Linked DNA regions of Homo sapiens: region 2 is linked to region 1. The links come from fine-mapping of genetic effects on gene expression. A gene starts in region 1. The other region holds a variant in brackets. All regions are shown on one strand. Distances are from middle to middle.

Evidence for each region. PIP is the estimated chance that this variant, and not a neighbour inherited with it, causes the effect. A credible set is the group of variants that fine-mapping cannot tell apart.
Region 2: its variant is the best candidate, but not a certain one, in a credible set for the expression of TBCK in whole blood (TOPMed, PIP 0.54).

The regions. Positions count from the first base shown.
Region 1 is chr4:106,311,281-106,324,136 of GRCh38, reverse strand. TBCK (TBC1 domain containing kinase) reads left to right here and starts at 7,928. Exons shown (of 26, transcript NM_001163435.3): 1 at 7,928-8,206. It overlaps AIMP1 (aminoacyl tRNA synthetase complex interacting multifunctional protein 1), which reads right to left and starts at 7,587. Exons shown (of 7, transcript NM_001142416.2): 1 at 7,543-7,587. RefSeq lists enhancers at 7,379-7,628, 8,119-8,178, 8,259-8,348.
Region 2 is chr4:106,285,785-106,293,784 of GRCh38, reverse strand. The region is part of intron 3 of TBCK (TBC1 domain containing kinase); the gene reads left to right. It overlaps LOC124900750 (a long non-coding RNA gene), which reads right to left. Exons shown (of 3, transcript XR_007058217.1): 2 at 7,723-7,904. Among named protein-coding and RNA genes, the nearest start is that of TBCK, 26 kb to the left of the region's middle. The variant G/A (reference allele first, on the strand shown) is at 3,388.

The DNA of each region.
Region 1 (12,856 bases):
TGGTGAAATTTTGAATAAAAACTAGATAATAGACACGTAACAGATTGTTTGAAAATTTCAAATTATTATATAATACCAATCCTATATAAAAAATATTCTGAAAAGCCACAATACACTGGCTGGTATTTATTTTTGAGGTGACTGTCTAGATCTGTTGGCTCATTTTTGAGCATCAGTCTATACTTAAATCTACTTGTTTCATATTAGCTGATACTAGTTTTCTAGTTTTTCTCTTAATTTTGAAATTTGAATAAGATGATTTGAGCCATATCTTTTCAAAATGTATTTTTCTAAAATGCACCAATTCATTCATTTTAGTATTATTCATCAAATATGTCTTTGCTAGAGATGTAAAACTTGCCAATTCTGCCTAATCAGATACTCATTATTGTTTGTGATAGCTACATTTTACCTATTGAGTATATTTCATCATTACTTATGTTAGACTAAAATAAAAAGACATCAAAAACTAAAGAAATGCTGTACTCAGGATACTAAAATTCAGAAGAGCATAGTTTTTTTTTTTTTTTTACTTTAACTTTCTTCATATATCCATTTCTATTAAGATATTTTCTCTACAATTCTGGCTTTGCAAACGTTTAAGTAACAACATGGTATTCTGTGTTCATTTTGGTAAAAATAGCAGAGTTTAAAGGTGGTATCTTCATTTGAATTTTTGTGCTCTTTTGGTCTGTATTTTTCTAAACTGTTAAAATAATAGTCCATAAAGAATAATGCTCATAAATAAGCCAACAGTTCTAGACAGTCCTTCAAAAATAAATACCCACCAAGTTGCTGAAAAATCAAAAAAAGAAACTCATGTTCTGACTCATACAGAAACATATAAAAAATCTTCTAAGAATAACAGTAATTTTGAAAATAGAGATAATAAATCCTAGCCTAAGAGAAAAAAATACAATTTTACTGAGTTGATAAATCTGTTAACTATTTGCAAAATATAAGTGGAATAGTTAGTTACATAAAATATGACTTTTATAATACATATTGAAGAACAAGCATAAGTTTAGGAAAGAGAATGTCATGTTTCAAAATACAGAAATACAAATGAACTAAACACTAAATACACATATGCAACTACTAAAAGGAAACAATGTGATAAAAAGAAGTGATAAAACTTTTTTTTTTTTTTTTTGAGACAGAGTCTTCCTTTTTCACCCAGGCTGGGGTGCAGTGGCACGATCTTGGCTCACTGCAACCTCCGTCTCCTGGGTTCAAGCGATTCTCCTGCCTTAGCCTCCCAAATAGCCGGGATTACAGGTGCCTGCCACCTGACTAATTTTTGAATTTTTAGTAGAGATGGGGTTTCACCATGTTGGCCAGGCTGGTCTCGAAATCCTGACCTCCCTCAACTGATCTGCCCACCTCGGCTTCCCAAGGTGCTGGGATTACAGGTGTGAGCCATTGCACTGGCGCCCAGACTCTACTTCTTCTCCAGTCCTAGATAACTGGGTATCTGGAAATATTATTCATGATGCCAATGTTAAAAAGTCTCATCTTGTGAAATCTAAAAATATTTCACTTCTAGTTACGTCTGTGTGTTAACAGAACTGTGCTCAAGTGCTAAAAGCCATTTGCTGTCTTTAGAACAGAAGCTCTGGAAACAGGTTTTCTAATACTTGTTGATTAATTATCATTTAAATTTTTTAAAAATATAGGTTGGATGCATAAGTTTATGTTAATGTTTTCTAGTAACATGCAGATAATGATCACTAGCACTGGCAGAGGAACATGGGTATATATACCCTTGGGCTTGCTTATATATACTTAGACTGTGTGACCTTGGTAAAGTTATCTAAATTTTCTATACTTTTTTTTTTTAATTTTTTTTAGTATTTATTGATCATTCTTGGGTGTTTCTTGGAGAGGGGGATTTGGGAGGGTCATAGGACAATAGTGGAGGGAAGGTCAGCAGATAAACATATGAACAAAGGTCTCTGGTTTTCCTAGGCAGAGGGCCCTGCCGCCTTCTGCAGTGTTTGTCCCTGGGTACTTGAGATTAGGGAGTGGTGATAACTCTTAAGGAGCATGCTGCCTTCAAGCATCTGTTTAACAAAGCACATCTTGCACCGCCCTTAATCCATTTAACCCTTAGTGGACACAGCACGTTTCAGAGAGCACGGGCCATTTAACCCTTAGCGGACACAGCACATGTTTCAGAGAGCAGGGGCCATTTAACCCTTAGTGGACACAGCACATGTTTCAGAGAGCACGGGGTTGGGGGTAAGGTTATAGATTAACAGCATCCCAAGGCAGAAGAATTTTTCTTAGTACAGAACAAAATGGAGTCTCCTATGTCTACTTCTTTCCACACAGACACAGTAACAATCTGATCTCTCTTTCTTTTCCCCACATTTCCCCCTTTTCTATTCGACAAAACTGCCATCGTCATCATGGCCCGTTCTCAATGAGCTGTTGGGTACACCTCCCAGACGGGGTGGCGGCCGGGCAGAGGGGCTCCTCACTTCCCAGATGGGGCGGCCGGGCAGAGGCGCCCTCCACCTCCCAGACGGGGCGCCGGCCGGGCGGGGGCTGCCCCCCACCTCCCGGACGGGGCCGCTGCCGGGCGGAAAGCGGAAACGCTCCTCACTTCCCAGACGGGGCGGCTGCCGGGCGGAGGGGCTCCTCACTTCTCAGACCGGGCAGCCGGTCAGAGACGCTCCTCACCTCCCAGACGGGGTGGCGGCGGGGCAGAGACACTCCTCAGTTCCCAGACAGGGTCGCGGCCGGGCAGAGGCGCTCTTCACATCTCAGACGGGGCGACGGGGCAGAGATGCTCCCCACATCCCAGATGATGGGCGGCTGGGCAGAGACGCTCCTCACTTCCTAGACAGGATGACGGCCGGGAAGAGGTGCTCCTCACTTCCCAGACTGGGCGGCCGGGCAGAGGGGCTCCTCACATCCCCGACGATGGGCGGCCAGGCAAAGACGCTCCTCACTTCCTAGACGGGGTGGCGGCCGGGCAGAGGCTGCAATCTCGGCACTTTGGGAGGCCAAGGCAGGCGGCTGGGAGGTGGAGGTTGTAGCGAGCCAAGATCACGCCACTGCACTCCAGCATGGGCAACATTGAGCACTGAGTGAGCGAGACTCCGTCTGCAATCCCGGCACCTCAGGACGCCGAGGCTGGCAGATCACTCGCGGTCAGGAGCTGGAGACCAGCCCGGCCAACACGGTGAAACCCCGTCTCCACCAAAAAATACAAAAACCAGTCAGGAGTGGCGGCGCGCACCTGCAATCCCAGGAACTCGGCAGACTGAGGCAGGAGAATCAGGCAGGGAGGTTGCAGTGAGTCAAGATGGTGGCAGTACAGTCCAGCCTCGGCTCGGCATCAGAGGGAGACGGTGCGGAGAGGGAGAGGGAGAGGGAGAGGGCTATACTTTTCTTAATTTAAAAAATTACTTGTACCTGATTTCACCTCCTACTTCCTTGTCACCTCCTTTCAGGGCTCCTTTTTTTTTTAATCTGTCCCATTAATGATGCTGTTCTTCAGGGTTTGGTCTTAATCACTAATCTTTTCTAGGGATCACAAACTAGCCTGACAAAGTTCAGGGATAGCTTTCTTTTCCAGGGCTAACAGTGTTGGAAATAACTGATGTGAATGTCTTTAAGTAAGACAGACAGACACTTTACTACTCCCTGTTGTCTGCCATTTATATTACCTACCAGGCTCCTAAAATAAGTTCATGACCCCAACTTTACACTCCCTGATTTTGTGTCATGTGCTGGGTTTATAGTAGAGAACAAAAATAAACATGTTCTTTGAACTAACTAAGCTTTCAGACAAATGGGGGAAACACAGTTGAAGACATTTTTAAAATAATGTTACGCTTAGGGCACAGTGATAGTTTAACAACAATACTGCTTAAAGCTCAAACAAATCTTTTACCATTCAACCCAGTGCTCATTTCATTAATCTCTATGCTAATTACTCCCCTGTGATTTTTCAATTTTACATTGAGTATAAGTCAACCTTCAAAATTTTAAATCCTCAGAGTTTCTAATATGTATAAAGTTTCTCATAGATGATAATAACAACTACATATATTTGTAGAACATGCGCTATGGCTGGCTAAATGCTTTACACAAGTCAATTTCGAATACTGTAATAATCTCCATTATACAGAGAAGAAAACTTGAATTAAAATTAATTTGCCTCATGTAATACATAGTAAACGAGGATTGAAACTCAGGTCTGTCTGATGCTGCAGTTAGCTCTTTTAATGCTCTAGCTATAATTTCTCTAAAGGATATAATTACGAAGCATTTTCCAATATATTTAATGACAGAATCCTAACACAGGAACAGCTATTAACATTTATTTGAACTAGTATTCTCTAAAACAGTTTAGGAAATGCTAGTTTAAGTCTCTGGACTAAAATGTAAAAAAATTAAGACTGTGAGATTAAAATAGATATAAGAATGACATGCACAGTAATTGAAAATATAAAACATTTATGAAGAGAGAAGCACAGAAAACTGTAGACCAAGTATGTTAATTGTGTTTGGTGAGGATCAAGACCTTTTCTTTTTCCTTTACTAAATTAAAATGGTAATAATGCATTTTTTAGGACAAAAGCTTTTGAAACATATTATCTAAATCATTCTGTCCCTTCACATTAATTTTGTCCTTCTCAATGTTAATTATCATACTTCATCAAACCTAAAAAGCCATTAATCATACGATGCCTCTAATGCAGAATCCCAAATACTGTACATGAATTTATAGTACATCTTAATCATTAAAATACACACACAAAAGATGATTTTTGAGATTCTGAGATCTTCACTATCATTTTTGTTTACTGAGCAATTTCCTCAGTAGTCCTCCCCACCCACACCATCTAAATTGCCTGCAATCTTTTTGAAAAAGCAAAATCTCTGCCCCACGATGACAACATTGGGAATCAAACATAAGTAAGTTACTACTTTGAAATCAAAGTTTTACAGGCAGACTTTTAATTTTAGAATTCTTATGCTATATAGGAACGCTACACAAATTTGAAAGTGTCTCTACTCAAAACCTCTAATTTCCCTATTTCAGAATTACAGTAGGTAAAAATTTACATTTTTGTTGGAAGCTTTAAATACTATACAAGAAATCTAAAATGCCATCAATTGTAAAATGGCTTCAATCCCAAGAAGCTCTATTATTTTATGTACATTATGAAAAAAAACACTATTGAATCAACTGACCCAATGCTTTCTTATTACTTAGACACATCCTATATTATTTATTGACAGACTTCTTTTAAATTTAACCCTGGATTTTTATCTTGTATCACCCTTTGTTTCCCCACATACACAGTAACTTTTCATTCTAATGCTAATCATAATCTTCTAAATGATCTTTAAAAGGGAAATTACACTCAACAACTATATGCCAATAGTGCATATATAACTCAACTGAAATAATGACAAGATTAAGTTATGACTAAGTGGGTGTAAGTGTGGGCAATGACAAATATCTCACAACTGCCAATTCATCTACAGTGATTTAAAGATGTCAACAACTTAAAAATACATCCCTATTTCAGAGATGTTAAGTAAGAGAAAAATGTGTATCTCAGAATTGATGGAATATAGTAATTTTAATCATTTTCTTCCTTTCTTCTCCTCCCTTCATTCCTATTCTTGCCTTCCAACTTCTTTCCCTGATTTGCTACACAATCTAATTACTGGATATGTAAAAATATTATAGTATACATAAAATACCCCACACTGAAAGACCGTCCTTATTATAGTGTAAAGCAATGTGGTACCTTTTAGCACTAGGTGAAAATTCCTGCTAGGATTTAAATCATATGTGTCAAAAGTCAGAATTTAAAGAAGAAAATTAAATACACTGAGAACAATGCATCTGAAGACACTCAAAATATGTAAGCGCAGCAACCAGCAGTAATTCCCTAGGTCTTTTATCAACCTTTGCCAAAACCTATAAAAAGAATATCTAAAATTGCTTTTTTATGGAAGTTCCTATTTCCCTTACCAGACAGCCTGCTTTCCCTTTACTGATGAGGACATAGGGGGTCCTGGAGGGTTTAAAGGATGGCTATAAGGAATGACTATAGGGTGGACAGCTATGAGAGGCCAGTCCATGCATTTCTAAATACCATCGTCATTAACACAAAAACTTTCCTCCCCAGTACAGAGTCCATAAAATTTAAAAAGGAGTATGCCTTGGCCTCCCATGACCCTCTTACCTCACAATAAGGCCATCTTTTACCTGGTTAAGATTTGCAGACTAGACCCATTACATACCTTGTCATTAAATACCTATAATATACCCTAACCTTTGCAATCTTGACAGATGTGATTTCCATTTTATAGACAGATCCAGGAAAATTACATGACTTATCTGAATCCCTTCAAGTACCACATAGCAAAGCCATGATTTTAACTTGTGTTTGCCACTCTGAAACTCACACTGGAATTCATTTTTCAAGTGTCCTCCAAAGCCTAATTAAATAAAATTAACCCTGTCATCTATAATACTCTTACATATCCAAATTAAGTGCATCAAGAATATAACTGGCCATTTCTTACCACCCATAGTCAAACCACCATTATGCTTCCTCTGGATTATTGCAAAACTCTTCTTATTGGTCTCCTTTCTCCTACCACGTCCTCCTCTGTGTATTTTCCTTAAAGAGTGACCCTCTTAAAAGGAAGTCAGAGCCCATCACTCTACTGCTCAAAACGCTCCAAAGTCCTATTTCATTTAGAATAAAAGTTAGATGTCCTCAAGATCTTCATGACCTGCTCGCCTTGATTTAATCTCCAGTGAAGGACTAAACCCTTCACTCAACTCTGCCCTACAGGCCTCCTTGCTATTCTAGCACGTTTCTGCTTCATGACCTCTGCAATGGCTGGTCCCTCTGTCTGACTGCACTTTCCCAAGATATTCGCGTGGTTAAATCTCCCACTTCTGTCAGCCCTTTACTTAAAAGTCATCTTTTCAGCAAGACCTTCCTGTGTCACTTTATACCCTTCTTCCCTGCTTTACGTTTCTCTTCAGGACTATCACGACCTAAAATACAGTATGTTTCTAATTACTTTGCTTAGTATGTGCCTTCCTCTCTAAAATGTGAGCTACAAGTAGACACAGATTTCCGTCTGTTTTGTTCACTGCTGTTCACCTAATGCCTAGAACGGTGTCTGGAATAGAGTGGGCGCTTAATAACTATTCGCTCAATGAATAAATTCCTGTCTTCACCCTCCTCTCCCCCAAAGCACCTAAGTCCTTTGACACACACATTCACATAACAGTAAATACGCTTAGGGATCGATATTTTTCTGTAGCATTCTTAACTTAGGCCTGCATCCCATTTCTCAAACGTGGCTCCTTTAGAAGGAAGTCTCAAACTCTTTCCTGTTTCCTTAGGCCAGGGCTGGTCCTGCTGCGAACGGACTACCCATTAGCAGCGCAGGCCAGGTCCTCTCTCCTGGAGGCAAGTTAGAGAAGGAAGACCCCTACGATCGCAATCGGCGATCCCCGAGTGAGTGACCCGCCACGACGTCACTCACATGAAGCGGAGGACCACGGGTTCCGAGACAGCCACAGCAGGAAGCATGTAGGTCCAGCCACCCGCGTACTATAGCAGTGAGAAAGGACCCAATGAGGTGTCCTTGCTGAAAGCCTGAGTGTTCTACAGATTCAACCCTCAATTCTTTCTTCCTCTTCCTGTGCTCAGTCCCATTAACCTGCCATACCACGCTCCTCGTCTTCCATTCCCTCACCCAGTATTTTCAATCGACCCCCCCCGTCCCCCCGCACCTCTTTCTCTCTCGCTATATGTCCTTTCGTGGCCAGTTTGGGCAAGGGGAAGGACACCACAAGTCGGGGTCTTTCCTCAGCGTTGGGTCGCGGTGGCTGTGAGGGCGGAAGAAAAGGCCAGGCTGAGGGGAGGGTAGAGGGTGAAAAGCTCGGATCTGTGTTTGGGGAAGGCCAGGCTTGCGCTCCTCGCCGGGTTCCGCGAAGGTTAACCTTGGCTGACTTGGCTCGCGAGCAAAGGGCAGCGTCTGAGCTCCCGGCGTTCCAGGAGTGGCCTCTTTTGTAGGAGCACCTGAAATGCAGCGTCTGGTGCACTAAGCCGTAGCGGCAGCAGCAGCCACAGCGACAGCGCTGGGGCCCTGTGTAGAAGCTCCATCCCCCTTGTCTTTGTGCTTGCCTGCGTCCCCAGACTCAGAGGCAGGTATTTGGGTAATCCAGTTTTCCGTGTCGTAGTGGGTGGGGTCTGTGGGAGGTAGAGGACTATCAGGAGCAGTGAGTGGCCCCGCATGTCTTCAGAATAGATAGAGAACCGAGCTGTGGAGCCGCTTGCTGATAGGTACTGTCTCCATCCCTAGCTACAGCCCGCCTTTCCTGTAAATCAGGTTCACCTGAGTCGTTTGGGAACCGTAGGCTTAGTAATCGCTCTGTCACTGCCTCAAAGGAAGGCTAAAGGAGGTTAGAGAATCTAGAATCCGCCCCTCCATTACTCACCTTGGAGGCAGAATTTTGCTTTGGTTTGTTTCTGGCCCTCGAGGTTTAGTCAGTCGTCAAAGTGTAACACCCCCTTGAGCAGTAGGAGAAAGTGAAGCAGAGGAAGGAAGTTACTTGAGGATTGTCAGTGGCTGCTTTTCAAGGATCCCTGTCCTGGTTTCTATCTATTTGAGACAAAAATAACCTCTTGAGAGAATGTATATATAAAATAAATGAATTAGTATCATTTTCCTGTTGAAGAAATGTGAAATTTTATTCATGATAAAATCGGCGTCTTTTGCCCTATTTTTTACTTTCTTTCCCCATTCGAGTCGTTTAAAACTCTAAGTTCTTTGAGGGCACAGAGTCTGACTTGTTCATTATCCTTTGCCCACCAGCTGGAAAAACAACTGACTTAAAATAGGGGCTTCAAAATATTTGTTGAATGAATGAATTTTCAAGCCCAACTGCTTGCACTGCTGTTTCCCTCATCTAATCTCTCATCTCTACGTTTTTTTTCCCCCGGTAGTTTTCTTCCACTCACGAGGTGTAAGTGAATGTATGTGTGTGTATTTTTGTGTGTGAGCCTTTTTATGTACAACCATTTAAGAGGTAGTGGAAAAAGAACACTGATTATGCTAATTAGTGTTTTATCTTTTTCGATCATTGTGTTTTATTTGGTTATTTTATTTTCAGCTATGTGATGATAAAGACATCTGATTGAAAATAAAATGGTCGGGCGCGGTGGCTCACGCCTGTAGTCCTAGCACTTTGGGAGGTCGAGGCGGGTGGATCACCTGAGGTCAGGAGTTCAAGACCAGCCTGGCCAGGATGGTGAAACCCCGTCTCTACTAAAAATACAAAAATTAGCCGGGCGTGGTGGCGGGCGCCTGTAATCCCAGCCACTCTGGAGGCTGAGGCACAGAATCGCTTGAACCCGGGAGGTGGAAGGATGCAGTGAGCCGAGATCATGCCACTGCACTCCAGCCTTGATGACAGAGTGAGACTCTGTCTCAAAAAAAAAAAAAAAAAAAAAAAAAATCAAGTAGTATAGCGTAGTAGGATTGAATAATAAAGTGCAACTGTCTCACCTGTCCTACTCTCAGTACTGTTCTTCAAAGATAACCACTTTTAACCTTTTCTAATTTTAGGTCTGTAGGTTAAATAATAAGTTAAACTGTTAATTCTTTTTGTTGACTTCTTGAGATAGCCCTAAGTTGAACTGCTAATTCTTTTTCCGTTGACTTCTAGAAATAGCCCACACCATTCACAATCTCCTCTGAATTTTGGAAGAGTCATAATCATAATTTTTAGTTTTTGTATTGGTTACTTTATAATTCAAAATAATATACGTAAACTACTTTTTTCACATCAACTTTTGAAAATATATTTGACTCCTTGTTTGGTAAAACGAGAAAAGTAGTGATTCTACCTTTTTCTTTATCACTTCAGAAACTACATTTATGCCCACTTTCTCTTAGCTGGACATTTACTTGTACATTGTCAAAGTTAGTAATATATTTCTTAACTATAACATTTGCGCTTTATTCACGTGCCAAAAACCAATAAAAAAAATAAAATGTTTACAGTATTATGGCTTTATAGTTGTTACTTAGAGCAAGTCCAAGCTGTATGCTCTGATATGTTTTTTTCCCCAGAGTTTTAACTTCATGATCCCTGTGCCATACTAAGGAGATTATTTATGATATCAAGGTCAAATGGGTTTTTATTTCTTTCCTGCCAAGGGCAAAATATGCTGTAGTTGAGCATGCTTTATATTTTGGAGTATGTAATACATAGTTTTTAACCGTCCCCACTTTCTTAATTGCCTTTCTGCTTTCTCCTGGGGAATAGGTAGGTGGATGTGCTTTCTTCACTGAATCTTCTCATTCTTTGTATGATGCACATAGAAGCAAGCTTCCATTCCTCTGTTTGAAGATTTTCCCCTTAAAGCCCAATGGCTTTCTGTTTAATTTGAACAGATTGCATTCTAGTCCTTTTGTATTGCTCCTATCCTGGGCTTATATTCATTCTTGGGTAAATAACATTGTTTCTTAGCCCCTCATCTTCTGTTATTGGGCTTCCCCCTATTTCCCTGGAATATATCCTAAGGAAACTTGCTCACAAAAGGCAAGTGAAAGGTAATTTTATTTTTTAATGTTCGTATAGCTGTAAATTATAATTTGCTCTTATGACTGATAATTTGGCTGTATATAGAATCAAAAGTATTTTCCTTCAACTCTCAATCCTTCCATGTCTTCTAACTTTTTTTTTTTCCTTTTTTTTGAGCTGGAGTCTCACTGTGTTGCTCAGTCTGGTCTGAAACTCCTGACCTCACGTGATCCTCCCACCTCAGCCTCTCAAGTATCTGGGATCACAGGCACAAGCCACTGCACCAGGCTCTCTTCTGACTTTCATTATTGCTGATGAGAATGCCAGTCTCACTTTAACTTGTTGATAGCAGAATCAGTTTTTTCTGTCTGAAATGTTTACAATTTTCTAGTTACGTTTGATGCTTTGAAAATGTATAGCAGTGTTTATCTTCTCATAAGCTGTTTTATTTTGTGTGAGATAAAATTTGATACATATTAAAACACATTGATTTTAAGTGGCCAATTTAATGAGTTTTGATGCATGTACTCATCCATAAAACCACTACCACCACAATCGAGATAGAGAATATTTCTACCACTACAGAAAGTTCCTCTGTTTCTCTGCTTATTCAACCCCTCTCCCCCATCTACAGTACTATCTTCTGATTTTTTTATTAATACTATAGTTTAGAACTATAGTTCTGGAATTACATTTAAATGGAGTCATACAGTATGAACTCTTTTGTGTCTGCTTCTTTCATAAACTTTATGTTTTTGAGTATATCCATGTTTTGACATGTTTGTTCCATTTTTGTTAAATAGAATTTCATGGTACAAATATGTTAATTGATTCACTTATGGGACATTTGCATTGCTTCTGGTTTTTAGCTATTAAGAGTACAGTTCCTATGAACATACTCATACAGTGTTTTTTTTTATGGACAAATGTTTTCATTTTTCTTGGTTAAAGAGTGGAATTTCTGAGTCATAAGTTAGGGATATTTTTAACTTTAGAAAAGTTTTCCAAATATTTTCCAAAATTCTTTTGCCATTTTACGCTCCCACTAGCAATATAGCAAAGCTCCACTTCCACATTCTCAACACTTGTTACTGCCAGTCATTTAAATTTTAGCCATTGTAGAAGTTAAAGGTTTGTCATTGTGATTTTCATTTGCATTTCCCCCAATTAATGATATTAAGAACTTTTTCATGTGCTTATTATTTTCATGCCTTGTGTGAAAATATGTTTGTGACTTTTACCTATTTATGTATTGGCTTGTTTTATTATTGAATTGTGGTATTTCTTTATAGACTCCGAATACAGGTCAATTATATACAGACACACATATGTTTGATTTTAAAAGGTCATATATATACATAATGTCATATGTATATACAGACAGATGTAAATAATATTTCCCTTTAACTCGAATTTTTATTTTCTCAGGGGTGCCTTTGGATATGCAGATGTTTTTAATTTTGATGAAGTCTACTTTGTCAAAATTGTCTTTTGTGGCTAGTGCTTTGTTCTATTGTGTCTAAGAAATCTTTGCCTAGCCTAAGGTTGTAAAGATATTCGCTTATGTTTTCAATTAGAAGACTAACAGTTTTACCTTTTACGCTTAAGCCTATGTTCCATCTTAGATTTTTGTGGATGTATCAGTAGAAGTTGAGGTTATTATTTTTTTATATGAATATCTTTTTCCAGCACCATTTGTAAAAAGGACTTTCCTTTTCCTGTTGAACTCTTTTGCTTTTGTTGAGAATCAATTTATTTTATTTAAATTCTTTTAATTATGAAATATGTGGTATTAACACACACATATGTAGATAAATATAGATACAGAGCATGGAAATTACCAAGCATAATGATAACATGAACACCCATTAATTCACCAGCTAAAAACTAGGCTATTACTCAAGATTTTTGAAGCTTTTTATGAATTTTTCCCTAACCTTACCCCACTTTAATTTGGTAGTAACCCATATTCTGAGTATTTTTTTTAAATTCCCTTACTTATTGAATATATTCTTACAATAGATATAAGTATTCCAGAATTATTTGTTTTATTTTTTGTTTTTGAGTTTTATGAAAACTGGAATATTTTATGTTACTTTTTTCACTCAATATTATATTTCTAAGATTCATCTATGCTATTAAATATGGCTATAGTTTGCTTATTTTTCATTATGTATACAGGTGAATAAAGCACAATTTATTTAACCATTTACCTACCATTGGACATTTAAATTGTCTCCAGCTTGGGGATATTAGGAGCAATAA
Region 2 (8,000 bases), 28 kb after region 1:
TACCACAATATTCTAGATGAAAAATCTTTTTCAAGGGAAGAAAAGCATTTATCTTAATAAATGGTAGTAATTTGATAGAAGCAAAACAAATAAATTGAATAAAAGTGCTATTATTGCTCCTTTAAATGATTTGGTTTTGGGTAGCCTCTAGAATGAAAAATGCAGATATCATGTATATACCAGCAGTCCCCAAACTTTTTGGCACCAGGGACTAGTTTTGTGGAAGACAGGTTTTCCATGGATGGAGGGTGGAGGGATGATTTTGGGATGATACAAGCGCATTACATTTACTGTGTACTTTATTTCTATTTTTATTATATTGTAATATATAATGAAGTAATTATATAACTCACCATAATGTAGAGTCAGTGGGATCCCTGAGCTTGCTTTCCTGCAACTAGAAGGTTCTATGTGGGGATGATGGGAGACAGTGACACCCAAAGTCTGTTGCTTATGTTCATTCTGCTCTGTAATCTCGTTTTGGTTGCTGTCACTGCAGAAAACCCTGCTTCACAAAGATAGGATGTTGGAAATGGAAGCAGGCTGAAAAGGAGTGATTTTGTGCCAATCTTGGGATATTCTGTCTTGACTTTAATCTAGAATGTATGGAGATTTGATATTGTCTAGTTGATCCTCTTCTAGCACAGATGAAGTCAATTCACCTGGTTTATTCACAAATGGGTTGCGGATCTATTCCTTCCCATTCAGGGGTCCTTTGTGGTTGGGAAGTAATGCTTAAACTCTTTTGAAAGCTGAGATAGGTGATCTGCACCAGTTGGGAGAAAGAAGGCCCTGGCTCAGCCTCTTTCAAAATCTCTGCTAATGTTTGAAACATGTCAGAAATCCCAGTGTTCACTTGCCACCCCCATAATTCCAGTTTGGCTTTGAATGCAGCCACTTTATCTGCGAACTTGAACAGAGTTGTTCTCTCCTGAAGTGACAGATTGAGTTTGTTGAGCAGGTTGAATATGTCACATAAGGAAGCAAGCTTTGTGACCTATTCTGTGTCACTGAAATGTGCTGCCAGTGGTGACTATTTTTCTAAAAGAAATCTCTGGAACAGCTCTCATAACTCAAAACTCTGGCCAGTGATCCACCTTTAGAAAGCCACCTACTTCTGTGTTTAAGAGAAGACGTGTATGCTCTGTGTCCATCTCCTCACAGAGCTGCATGAACAGATATGAGTTAAGGGCATGTACTTTTTTTTTTTTTTTTGAGATGGAGTCTTGCTCTGTCGCCCAGGCTGGAGTGCAGTGGCGTGATCTTGGCTCACTGCAAGCTCCTCCTCCCGGGTTCATGCCATTCTCCTGCCTCAGCCTTTTGAGTAGCTGGGACTACAGGCGCCCACCACCATGCCTTGCTAATTTTTTTATTTTTAATAGAGACAGGGTTTCACCGTGTTAGCCAGGATGATCTCGATCTCCTGACCTCATGATCCACGCACCTCAGCCTCCCAAAGTGCTGGGATTACAAGTGTCAGCCACCGCGCCCAGCCAAGGGCATATACTTTAATGAGGTTGATAATTTTAATCATATCCTGCAAAACGTTGTTAAGTTCAGGTGACATTTTTCAGGTAGCCGGCATTTCTGTATGGATGGCACAGTGCATAGACTCACATTTAGAAGCAACCTTTTTGACCTGAGAAGTGAAACCAGAAAGCCGTCCAGTCATGGTGGCCGCTGTGTCTGCATATACCGATGTAAAGTGACCAATTCAGTTTCTCTGATATTTAATCATTCAAAGACTTGAATAGTTCTGCAGCTTTGGTGTTTATTAGCAACAAAAGTGCACATAAATATCCTCATGCATATCCTCCTGAAAAATATATTGCACAAAAGCAAGCATTGTTGCATTGTTGTCAACATCGGTCAACTCATCAGTCTGAATTGTGTACCATGGTGACTCATTGATTCTAGCAATTGTGCCTCAATATCCTCTGTTATTTCATCAGTTTGTCTAGTTATGGTGCTAGTCGAAAGAGGAACACGTGCTACCTTTTGATCGGCATCCTCTCCTAAAATTTCATGACAGATGTCTTTAGCAGCAGGCAGGATCAAATCTTCACCGATAGTAAAGGGCTTCTTAGCTTTAGCTATGTAGTTAGTCGCTAAGAATGATGCTCTTAGTGTCAACACGTTTGATGAAGTGGTGGCTTTCAGTAATTACTTCAGTTCTTCGTGTTCATGTTTTTTTCTTTTGAAAAACTGCGAAGACTTGTCTTTTAATCAGTCTGCTTGGTCTCCATGTGACAAAGCAGTTTTGAAGGTTTTATGGCTTCATTGGATAGCTGGTCGCCACATAGCATACAAAGCATACTTGGAGAATGTGAATCATCTGTTACAATGAACCTATAATTTAAGTAGGACTGTTGGTATTTTCTTTTAAATGAAGCTTTCTTTTTGTTGGCAGTCTTAGAGTCTTCTGCTGTCTCATCATGGGGTCTTTCCCCCTTTTTAAAGAAGGTCTCCAGTGATGTTTGGTTTTTACTCATTGTGACTAGGGGTTAGCTTGTAGGCTTATCAAAACTGTGACCAAGACAAGTGTGCAGTGTGGGAAGGAGGTGCAGATGGAAGAGGTAAATAAAATAATAGGCAGGCCACGTGCAGACTAAAATAAATGTTGCATTTTGACTTAAAGCCTGCCACCAGATGCAGCTGTACACTTGAAGTACATCAACTCACTTGCCACTCAAAAGCCTACCACCAGATACAGCTTAATTGTCACTTGCCTCTCACTGATAGGGTTTTGATGAGTCTGCAAGTAATTGATTTATTATGGTCTCTGTGCAGTCAAACCTCTCTATTAATGTTAATCTGTATATGCAGCCACTCCCCAGCGCTAGCATCACTGCCTCAGCTCCACCTCAGATGATCAGGCGTTAGATTCTTATAAGGAGCCCGCAACCCTGATCACTCGCATGCATGGTTCACAGTAGGGTTCGTGCTCCTATGAGAATCAGTGCTGCTGCTGATCTGACAGGAGGCAGAGAGCTCAGGTGGTAATGTAGCGATGGGGAGCAACTGTAAATACAGATGGAGCTTTGCTGGCTTGCCTGCTGCACACCTCTTGCTGCGCAGTCCTAGGTACAGGGTCCAGGACTAGTCCATGGTGGGGGGGTTGGGAACCCCTGTTGTACACTATAGCCTTACATCCTTCCTTAGAAAAGTCTAATCTGACTATAGGTAAGAAAAATAACTTTTATATGTATTTAGAAATAGTTTAACCTTATTTAGTAAATGTGTTTTTATAGTTATAATTTTTGTAATGTCACTAATCTTTGATTTTTATTTAAAAGAATATATTATTCCGGCCGGGTGTGGTGGCTCATGCCTGTAATCCCAGCACTTTGGGAGGCCAAGGTGGGCGGATCACGAGGTCAGGAGATC[G/A]AGACCATCTGGCTAACATGGTGAAACCCTGTCTCTACTAAAAATACAAAAAATTAACCAGGCGTGGTGGCAGGCGCCTGTAGTCCCAGCTACCCAGGAGGCTGAGGCAGGAGAATGGCGTGAACCCGGGAGGCGGAGATTGCAGTGAGCCGAGATCACGCCACTGCACTCCAGCCTGGGCAACAGAGTGAAACTCCATCTCTAAATAAATAAATAAATAAAATAATATATTATTCCTTGCTCACTAGTTCAAATTTACAGTCTCCTGCTGCTAAAAAGCAATTTTCTTTAAAAGCTAGTTGACATTAAAATTGAAAACCAATTATGCCCACAACTTTAGGTAAGAAAAAATATTTTAGTTGAGCCTGGGTTAAATTTGTGTAAAGATTTACAATGCAATATGTATGATGAAAATATGCATTTACAATGCAATATGTGTGATGCAATATGCCCTAACTAGTTAGGCATCCTTGGACAAGTCTCTTAATCATTTTCCTTATCTGTAAAACAAGGAGTTTTACTGATTGAGAGATCATTGTAGCACAAGTTATTCTTAACTTAATGTTTTATTTAATATGCATCATATCTGATAATACATCAATCGTCTTTTTTTTTTTCTTTTTTTTTTTTGAGACAGAGTCTCGCTCTGTCACCCAGGCTGGAGTGCAGTGGCATGATCTCGGCTCACTGCAACCTCTGCCTCCCGGGTTCAAGTGATTCTTCTGTCTCAGCCTCCTGAGCAGCTGGGACTACAGGCATGCCCACCATGCCTGGGTAATTTTTGTATTTTTAGTAGAGATGGGGTTTCACCATATTGGCCAGGCTGGTCTCGAACTCCTGACCTCATGATCTGCCCGCCTCAGCCTCTCAAAGTGCTGGGATTACAGGCATGAGCCACCGCGCCTGGCTGATCAATTGTCTTCATAAATATAATTTGTTATATTTTTATAGACTAATATGTTAACCTACTATTGCTCTTTGTTTAAATGGTAGATTTCTTGACAGAAGAACCTATGGCAAGTCTACATTTAAAATTTCAATGCTATAAAAAAGGCTAAATTATTAATAGAAACATCTATTTTATGATCCAGCAATTCCAGTCCTAGTTATAAGGCCTCCTTAAATTTTGTACTGTAGTACTTCATTTGCCTCACTCTAGTCCCAGCTCTGTCTAGGTATTTATCCAAGAGAACAGAAAAATACATGTCCACCTATGCAAAAAGATTTGCACTAGAATATTCCCAGAAACATTCTTCATTATAGCTCTAAACTGGGTAGAACTCAAATGTCCATGGACAGGAGAATGCATAAACATGGTACAGATTGATAATTCTTTATCCATAATGTTTGGGACCAGAAGTGTTTCGGATTTGGGATTTGTTTTTCCCAGATTTTGGAGTATTTGCATTTACATAGTGAGCTATGTTGTAGATGGGACTTAAGTGTAAACACGAACTTCATTTATGTTTGAATGATAGCTTATACACATAGCCTGGGTGTAATTTTATGTAATACTTTAAATAATTTTGTGCATGAAGCAAAGTTTACACTAAATACTTATGTGTGGAATTTTCTACTTGTGGTATCATATTGTTGCCCAAAAAATTTTGGATTTTGGAACATTTTGGATTGCAGATTTTCAGATTAGGGATGCTCAACCTGTTAATCAACAATGAAAAAGAAAGAGCTACTGGTACCCACAACATGTGGATTAACCTTATAAATATTACGCTGAGCAAAAGAAGCCAGACATAGAAGATTATCGGTATTTATCTTCGGTGATAGAAAAACAGTGCTTTATTCTGTTAGAGAGTAAGGGGTAATTCAAGAACTGATTCAAAATGGCCTTGAGGGAACTTTTTAAGGGGATGAACATTTTTGTATCTTGATCAGATATTACCTATATGGTGTATGTGTGTCATAACTAAATGAAATATGCACTGAAAATGTATAATATATGCATTTTACCTATGTAAATTATACCTTAATTTAATTTTTTTTTTTGAGACGGAGTCTCGCTTTGTCGCCCCGGCTGGAGTGCGGTGGTACGATCTCAGCTCACTGCAAGCTTCACCTCCCAGGTTCAAGTGATTCTCCTGTCTCAGCCTCCTGAGTAGCTGGGACTACAGGCATACACCGCCATGCCTGGCTAATTTTTTGTATTTTAGTACAGACAGGGTTGCACCGTGTTGCCCAGGCTGGTCGCGAACTCCTGAGCTCAGGCAGTCTGCCTGCCTCGGCCTCCCAGAGTTCTGGGATTGCATACCTTAATTTTTTTTTTTTTTTTTTTTAAGAAAGGGTTGTTGAGTTATTCACTTGGCTTGAGTTCTCAATCCCTCATAGAGAAACAGTATTGTGTTGTTAATGAAGATGTTTGAGCCACTGACTTTTTTAATTTTTTGGTTTTTAGAAGAAAGAGTATGAATTAGTTATTGCTTAACAAGTTACCTCAACACTTTGTGGCTTAAAACAACAATAAAAATTTATTAACTCATATAATTCCTTTGGATCAGAACATAGGAATAGCATAACTAGATGGTTCTAGCTCAAGGTCTCACAAGATTTCAGTCAAGATAACAGCTGGACCTCCAGTCATCTGTTATAAAAGCTTTTCTGGAGTTGGGTGATCTGTTTCTAAGATGGTTTACTTATAAAGAAGGTGCTAGTTGTTGACAAGAGGCTTAATTCTTTTCTACATTGAGGGCCTTTCCACAGGCCTCTTGACATGCTCAAAGCATGGTGGTTGGCTTCTCTCAGAGTGAACAATCTAAGGAAAGAAAACAAGGTGGAAGCTACAGTGGCTTTGGTAACCTAGTGTCAACAAACACACACTGTTATTCCTGCAATGCAATATCCTGTTAGTTTACACAGGTCAGCCATTAACTGTATTCTGTGTTGGAGAGGATTGCTCAAGAATGCACATGTGAATTTCATGAGTCATGGCTCATTGGGGGCCATCCTGGAGGCTGACTACCACAAATGTCTTAGAGACCATACAAATACTTTTGAAAAAACACTCCTACAAAACAGGAGTGACATGCTAAATCAATATTAATGCTAACTGAAAAATATCTGGAATTCTTAAAATTATTCATATTTGTTTAAAGTATTTGGGGTAGAAAAAAGAAAGGATTATACACTAAGAATAGGGGGTAGAGTATTAAGGGAATATCCAGAAGTCCCACAGGTGAAATAGGGTCTTTATGGACATAGCTATGATCAGAATTGCTATACATCCTGAAAATTGATGTTATCCATGGTCTTGTGCTCCCAAAAGTTCCAGAACACCCCGAAGTTCCAGAGGACCCCATAAGCCACAAAGAGAGCAGTCCTCTGGTCATCAGTATGGTAGTCTCTTATCTCCACATTTCCCCCTCTGCCTGTATATGGTCCTTCTTTTACTTGGTAAAGGAACTGAGGCGAAAGAAGTTGGTGATTCAAAAGATAAATTTCCGTTTTCATTGTTTTACCTCAACTCTATTCCACCCCCACCCCTCCTGCCTTTTTGTTTTTTTGAGACAGGTTCTCGCTTTGTCACCCAGGCTGCTGGAGTGCAGTAGTGCGATCACTGCTTACTGTGATCGCTGCTTACTGTAGCCTTGACCTCGCTTACTGTGATCGCTGCTTACTGTAGCCTTGACCTCCTGGGCTCAAGCGATCCTTCCACCTCAACCACCCTAGTACCTGGGACCACAGGTGTGCATCACCATACATGGCTATTTTTTTATTTTTTGTATATACAGGGGTCTCATTATGTTGCCTAGGCTGGTGTTGAACTCCTAGGCCCGAGTGATCTTCTTGCCTTAGCCTCCCAGGTGTTGGGATTACAGGCACAGGCATGAGCCACCATCCCCCAACCTTTTTTAAAAATGTTTTTGAACTTTGAATTGTATTATATAAGGATACAATCAATATTGCTTTGCCAGTATGATTAAATCATTAGCTCATGAAAAGTTTTGCATTTCTGTGCTTACCATTTTTTATCTTTGTTTGAAAGACGACAAATCTTGTGGCAATGAACATCAGTGGTTTCTTCAATGATTTTGCTTTTGTCTTCATGAGGATAAAATAGTGTAGATGGAAGCACATTCTTTGAGGATGTATATTAACATGAGTAGGATTAAATGCAAAATTTACATGATCTTTTATGCCAGTTACATTTTCTTTTTTCTTTTAAATAGAACATATAGTAGCCTTAACAGGTCTTTCCATTTTTTCCATTGAGATGTATTTAAGCATTTGTGTAAATAAAGTACTATTTTTAAATTATTCTGATAATAGACTAAAAGTCAGTGTTTTCTTTGTACATTTTGGAATATAACATTCAGTACTTACTGCCTTTTAGTAGGAATGATCCTTTTAGGTTCAGTTCCAAGTTGTTATCTGATCCATCCATCTAAATTAATTTTGCTGAGAACTATTTGACTTTTCCACATATTTGGATTACATTAGTCTCCAGTAACAGAGCAGGTATATGTGTAGAGTTGATGTACTGCAATTTTAATCAATTTTATAACCTGTTTATAGAAAGTGAGAAGATGTTCTTAAGGTTTATAAATTAGTTCTTTCCTTTACTACCAAAAGTAAGCACCTGCACCTGCAAGAAGGGCTGA